Homo sapiens: one gene and its partner. The protein of the gene in region 1 purifies or fractionates together with the protein of each later gene. This does not show direct contact. Each region holds a gene or a part of one and is shown in the gene's direction. Other genes may lie near its edges.

Region 1 (3,500 bases):
AGCCTCATCAAAGTTCATTGACTAACCTCAATTTGCTTGCCAGCCACTGGCAGAGAGTACAATTTACGCAACACATGTGTAACAGACAAAAAGTGAAAACAGAGAGGAACTTAAGGAAAGCAAACTTAAAATGGCACCAGTGTAAAAGGAAACCTATTGACAAAGGCATTTTCAATGATTTCAATGAAGGCAACAGCTGCGCTCCACCAATGCTGCCACTAGATGGTGGTGTTTCCATTATCTAGAGGTCTTGTGAGTTACCTTTTATCTGTTAAGAAAGAAAATCTGAAATCTGTATAAAGCCTGGCCTAGAGCACTTCTGTCTTCACAGCTTCTACCCTCCTGCCCCAGTGGCCAAGGCAAGCATCTTGAGGCCCAAATCTCACATATGCATGTCTTCTGTACAGTCGGAACTAGAATGTCATTGACTTCTCCCTCTGCATTCGTGAATATGCTTCTTTATTGCTGTTTGACATCAAATTGGTAAACACGGAAATCCATTGAATCTATTAATATACTTCTCTCAGATTTCAAAGGAGGTCAATGAAATCATGGTAAAAATGCCATACCAGTGTTTCATAAATGGACAGTTCACAGATGCAGACGATGGAAAGACTTACGACACTATCAACCCAACAGATGGATCTGTGAGTAATTCTTTAGTGTGAGTAGTGATCACTGGTCATGGATTTTTAGTTAATACACCATTGTAAAAGAGGCAGTCTTAAGAAGCCCTTTTATTCTCTCACTCTGCCTCTAAGTACTTCACACAAATGTACTTCATGCTTTTCTTTCAATGACTCAATTCTGGTACCAGCTGCTATTAACTGTAGTAACCTATTTTATAGAACATTTATGATAAATTTAGACAGGTAGCTTTACCTATACACACCAGAGGCACTCATCTGCATAGAGATATATGTGAAAAAACTTTCCAGACTTTGAAGACTCATGGCAAGAAATTCAGCTTTCCTAAAGCACTGGAAGAACTACAGTCTTCCAATCTTCCTAAATGTGTTCTTCCATAAAGTAGTATGATATGAGAAGTACTAAATTTCTGGTTCACAATTTTCATATTAAAATTGTTCTTTTTCTTTACTGTAGTACTAGATATACTCATTTCTTATCATAACTTTTTTTAAAATCAGTAATACTCTATTTTTTCTATTAATACAATATTAATTCCAAGAACCATATTTTCATATCTCTCATGGGGCCTATTTTTACTTACCTTGAAATAGACAATATGCAAAGTATCCTACGCTTCTTTGGCGGATGTTGATAAAGCAGTAGCAGCAGCAAAAGATGCTTTTGAAAACGGTGAATGGGGAAGAATGAATGCAAGAGAAAGAGGAAGATTGATGTATAGGTATTTCTATTTTTTATTTTTTTATTTTTTAGAAAAGTAACTCTGGTAGAGACAGGGGTTCACTACGTTGGCCAGGCTGGTCTCAAATTCCTGACCTCAGGTGATTCACCTGCCTCAGCCTCCCAAAGTGCTGGGATTACAGGCGTGAGTGGTGGCACGTGCCTGTAGTCCCAGCAACTCAGGAAGCTGAGGCAGAAGAATTGCTTGAACCTAGGAGGTGGAGGGTGTAGTGAGCCGAGAGTGCACCACTGCACTCCAGCCTGTGCTAGAAAGCAAGACTCTGTCTCAAAAAAAAAAAGGAAAAAAAAGAAGCAAAACAAAGTGAGTCTACTACCTTTGGATATTGGCTAACATTGCCAAGATTTTAAAAATTCCTGCAAAACATTCTAGTATTCACCTAATATGAAATATGTCTTCTGTTACTTGACTCATATTAAATCCTATATATGTTGATTATGTTAGTATTGCTTGCATCAGGCAGGTCCCAGCTGGAAAAGAAGTTTAATAAAGAACTGTTCACAAAGACGTGGCCGAGGTCAAAGAAATCCAATAAAGGATACTGAAACATCCAGGCAGGGCTAGCAGCAGGGGGAAGCTGCTATGTCAAGGTCTGAAGGGACAGGGGAAGGAGCTGTTACTGGAATCTGGCAAGATCTGTAGCTATACGAGAAAACCACACTGCAGTGGAGGGACATGGCAGCTTCTGAACCACAGCCTATCAGCGAGGGAGCCAGGGAATCCAACTCCCCAGCCACTTTTTCCTTCAGTTCACCAATATTCTGCGGGTGCCTCCCAGTGGTCTCTCACTGGCCAAGCCCAATGGGAGAGCAAGGGAGCCAGGTGATGTAATCTATAAAGGTCATTCACCAGGGTCAAGGTCACAGAGCAGGGTGGAGAATGGATACAGAGAGCGGCAAGTGGAGAATATCCAGTACCCTGTTGTTTTAAAAAAACATTTTATATCCACTTGATGTGTAAGGAATAGGAACAAGGAAGAAAAATAATAAGGACTGGGAAGAATATTATAAATCAGTAATGAAGGATGCCAGGAGTGATTAGATTCAATCATAAATTCCATTTGCTGTTTACCTAAAATCCAATATCGGACCTAGATCAATAGATCTCCTAGAGCAATGATATGATTTGGCTGTGTCCCCACCCAAATCTCATCTTGAATTGTAGCTCCCATAATTCCCATGTGTCATGGGAGGGACCCAGTGGGAGGTCACTGAATCATGGGGGCAAGTCTTTCCTGTGCTGTTCTCATGAAAGTATATAAGTCTCATGAGATTTGATGGTTTTATAAAGGGCAGTTCCCCTGCACATGCTCTTGCCTCTTTCCTTTATAAATTACCCAGTCTCAGGTATGTCTTTATTAGCAGCATGAGAATGAACTAATACAAGCAAGATCTGGAACAAAGATTGTCGGAGGGGGATTTCAAGCTGGACTCTAGAGTGGCCCCAAAGGAACAGCTCAGAGAACCACTACAAATACAGAAGAAAAATAAATAGAGAAGTTGAACACAAAAGATGAGTCTTACCGTATCATAGTCATTATACAGTCCTGCACTTACCTTCCCATAAAACTTGTGAACACCAAACAGAAATCTGTTGCAGTGTTTGTAATTCATTGTGTACGTTGCTATCTTGTCTCTTCAGTTAGTTTTGGAAATATTTTTGTGCCAACTGGAAATCCTCAAATGTTCATGGGTTCTCAGAAGTGTGGGTTCTGGGAATGTGGTTCCAATGACTGGTACTGGCTCAGTCATTGTTCTACTTCTTACACATAGATGAGGCAAGTTATATATGCTTCCAATACCCTCTGCTTCTCCTTTGTAATTCTTGAAACAAATGATTTATGAAAATATTTGTTTAATGTCTTTCTTGCCTACTGGACCATGATCTCTATAAGGGCAGAGATCTGATCCATATGTGTTTACCTCTGAATTCTCCGTCCTTAGGATACTGCATTATATGTGACAGGAGCTCAATCAATACTTGTTGAATTTATTTCTTTCACTGACCACACAGACTTGCAGACCTACTGGAAGAGAACCAAGAAGAGCTGGCAACTATTGAAGCCCTTGATTCAGGGGCTGTCTATACCTTGGCCCTGAAGACACACATTGGA
Region 2 (3,225 bases), on another chromosome or scaffold:
TGCTAGAGACCAGCTTTCTTCCATTTTCCCATTCTGTCATTCCCTAGGGGTGGTCTTCACTATGGTCCAAGATGACAGAGCAATACTGTTCTAATAGTGTTACTAGGCTGAAGGACCAGAGAGAGTTAGATAAATCCTCAGTTTCTTTAGAGTCTAGTGACATGTTTTATAACAGTTTATCTTAATATCCTTGTGGTAAAATGGAGAAATGTGAGTGAGGATTAATAACCAATTGAATTGGCCTGGCACGGTGGCTCAGCCTGTAATCCCACCACTTTGGGAGTCCAAGGCGGGTGGATCACGAGGTCAGGAGTTCAAGATCAGCCTGGCCAAGATGGTGAAACTCCGTCTCTACTAAAAATACAAAAATTAGCTGGGCGTGGTGGCAGGCACCTGTAATCACAGCTACTGGGGAGGCTGAGGCAGAGAATTGCTTGAACCTGGGAAGTGGAGGTTGCAGTGAGCCGATATCATGCCACTGCACTCCAGCATGGGCGACAGAGCGAGACTCCGTCTCAAACAGCAACAACAACTGAATGGCTGTAATACATTAATGTATACAGATGAATTGAGAAGTCTTCTAGTGAAATGGCTCAGATCTTTGTTCTTGGTCCAGTCCTGTTCAGTTTTTGATCAGTGCCTTGAATATCATTGATGACTCATTAAATTTATAAAGAGTGCAGAGGCCTCCTCAGAGAATGGATGGTAGAAATGCATTGATGAGAGAAGTTTTATCTATCTATCTGTCTATCTATCTATCTATCTATCTGTCTCTATCTAAGAAGTCATAAAGGCTGAGTCTAATAAGATAAAATTTTCAGTCCATTCTTTTGGTCCAAAAAGGCTTACATTCTCAGGTATAGCTTCAACATCATATATGAATATTACTAAGAATCTTAGTAGATAAGCTAAAGTCAGTATGAGTAACCAGTCTGATATAGTTTGCAAGAACACTCTTCATGGACTGCACCAAAAAAACCTATGGTAGCAAGAGACAGTTTTTATTAGAAGTACTGTCTGTTATACCACATATGGAGTCTTAAATTAGTTTTGGGTGTCATTTTGAGGCCTAGAGTCATAGAAGAGTGATTAGGAGCTTGTGGGGTATAAAAATAACTTGAGAATTGGCTGAAAGCAACTAGGGAAGATGGGGGTAGTAGTATGTGTAAACATTTGAGGCAGTAGAGATGTGGGACCCAAATACTGTTCCCCTTTTACTCAAATTCTGAGATGAGTTGACATGTTCTGTGTAGGGCTAGAGAGTAGAAAAATGGCCAGTAGGTGGTAGCCACAGAGAAGCAGTGCGTACAAACAAGTAAGTATGCAAAATTTGTACATACGGTTTCAGGAATAACTAGAATACCCATAAAATATCCACCTGCCTTAAAAACTAGAACATCATTGATAACTTGGAAGCCCTTGCATACCTCTCCATGATCTCATTTGTCTTCACAGCTATATAAATCTCATTGTATGATTATACCATAATTTATTCATCCTGTTGTTAAAGGATATTTGGGTTTCCAGTTTTTCTTTTTTTACTACCAAAGCACTACATTATTAATATTCTTGTATATGTCCTGATATGTAAGTGCAAAAGTTTCTTTTACAGCAATGGCTCTTGAAGAGTGGTTCCCAGACCAGCAGCATCAGCATCCCTTGGAACTTCTTTGAAATGCAAATTCTCAAGCCCCCTACCCAGACTTACTGAATTCAAAACTATGTGGGAGGAGCCCAGCAATCTGTGTTTCGCAAACCCTCCAGGTGACTCTGATGCACAGTAAAATTTGAGAACCACTGTTTAAGAGTATTGACATAGAATGGAATTGCTGGATCATAGAGTATATACATGTTCAACTTTTTTGAGAAGCACTAAACATTTCCAAAGTGCTTATATTAGTTTATGTCTCTACTATCAATAGATGAGTCACCCCAATGCTCCCCATCCTCTTCTGTGCTTGGTATTATCTTTTAGGTATTGCAAATACAGGAGATTTGAGTATTATTTCCTTGTGGCCTTAATTTGCATTTCTGATTATTAATGAGCTTGAGCATCTTTTCATATATTTAGAAGCCACTAATATTTTCTCTCGGTAAAATGCCTATTCGAGTCTTTGCACACTGCTGTATTGGATGTCAAATTGATTTATATATTCCCTGTACTAATCGTTTGTCTACATACAGTTTTATCCTGTTTTTTTTTTTATTCTATTGGGTCTTTTGCTGAACAGAAGTTCTTAATTTCAATGTCATTGAATTTATCCATCTTTTATGATAATGCTTTTTGTGTTTTAAGAGGTTCTTAGCTCTCCTAAAGTCATAAGGACATTTTCCCTCTACTGCTTTATGAAGTTATTTTGTCCTTTTCTTACAGTATGACTTTATTTTATGTTATGTACGGATATAATTTTTTTCATAATGAGTAAATAGCCCAGCACCTTTTATTAAAGAATCAATCCTTTCCCTACTGATCTTTAAAGCCCAGTCTGTCTTTTTCTTTTTTTGAAATTGTCTAGCTTTTTAATTTTTACCAACCAGATGATTATAAAATATCACATAGTAGGCATAAATTACATTTCTTTGTCCATTCCTGTTTCTTTTTCTATGAAATCTCTGTTTTCTTTTGTCCAATTTTTATTGGGTTGTCTTCTTATTGATTCCTTACATGTTCTGGATACTAATCCATTATAAATTATGTTTTTCAAATATATTTATCCAAATCGCAGCTTGCTTTTTCATTTTCTTAATGCTCTCTCTTTTTTTTATTATTATTATACTTTAAGTTTTAGGGTACATGTGCACAACGTGCAGGTTTGTTACATATGTATACATGTGCCATGTTGGTGTGCTGCACCCATTAACTCATCATTTAGCATTAGGTATATCTCCTAATGCTATCCCTCCCCCCTCCCCCCACCCCACAACAGTTCCCCGAGTGTGGTATTCCCCTTCCTGTGTCCATGCGTTCTCATTGTTCAATTCCCACCTATGAGTGAGAAAATGTGGTGTTTGGTTTTTTTGTCCTTGCGATAGTTTGCTGAGAATGATGGTTTCCAGCTTCATCCATGTCCCTACAAAGGACATGAACTCATCATTTTTATGGCTGCATAGTATTCCATGGTGTATATGTGCCACATTTTCTTAATCCAGTCTATCATTGTTGGACATTTGGGTTGGTTCCAAGTCTTTGCTATTGCGAACAGTGCTGCAATAAACATACGTGTG

The links. The genes of interacting proteins can lie anywhere in the genome.
Region 2: the proteins of ALDH1L2 (region 1) and TTC5 purify together in Homo sapiens (affinity purification with mass spectrometry, with the first as the bait; one large-scale study listed by BioGRID). This does not show direct contact.

What each region holds. Positions count from the first base shown.
Region 1 is NC_000012.12:105,049,959-105,053,458, reverse strand, and holds part of ALDH1L2 (mitochondrial 10-formyltetrahydrofolate dehydrogenase precursor), read left to right. Parts: intron 1-527; coding exon 528-647; intron 648-1,241; coding exon 1,242-1,369; intron 1,370-2,748; coding exon of another isoform or gene 2,749-2,767; exon of another isoform or gene 2,768-2,970; intron 2,971-3,400; coding exon 3,401-3,500. UniProt on the Homo sapiens protein: Mitochondrial 10-formyltetrahydrofolate dehydrogenase that catalyzes the NADP(+)-dependent conversion of 10-formyltetrahydrofolate to tetrahydrofolate and carbon dioxide.
Region 2 is NC_000014.9:20,285,727-20,288,951, reverse strand, and holds the end of TTC5 (tetratricopeptide repeat protein 5), read left to right. Parts: 3' UTR 1-2,725; downstream 2,726-3,225. UniProt on the Homo sapiens protein: Cofactor involved in the regulation of various cellular mechanisms such as actin regulation, autophagy, chromatin regulation and DNA repair.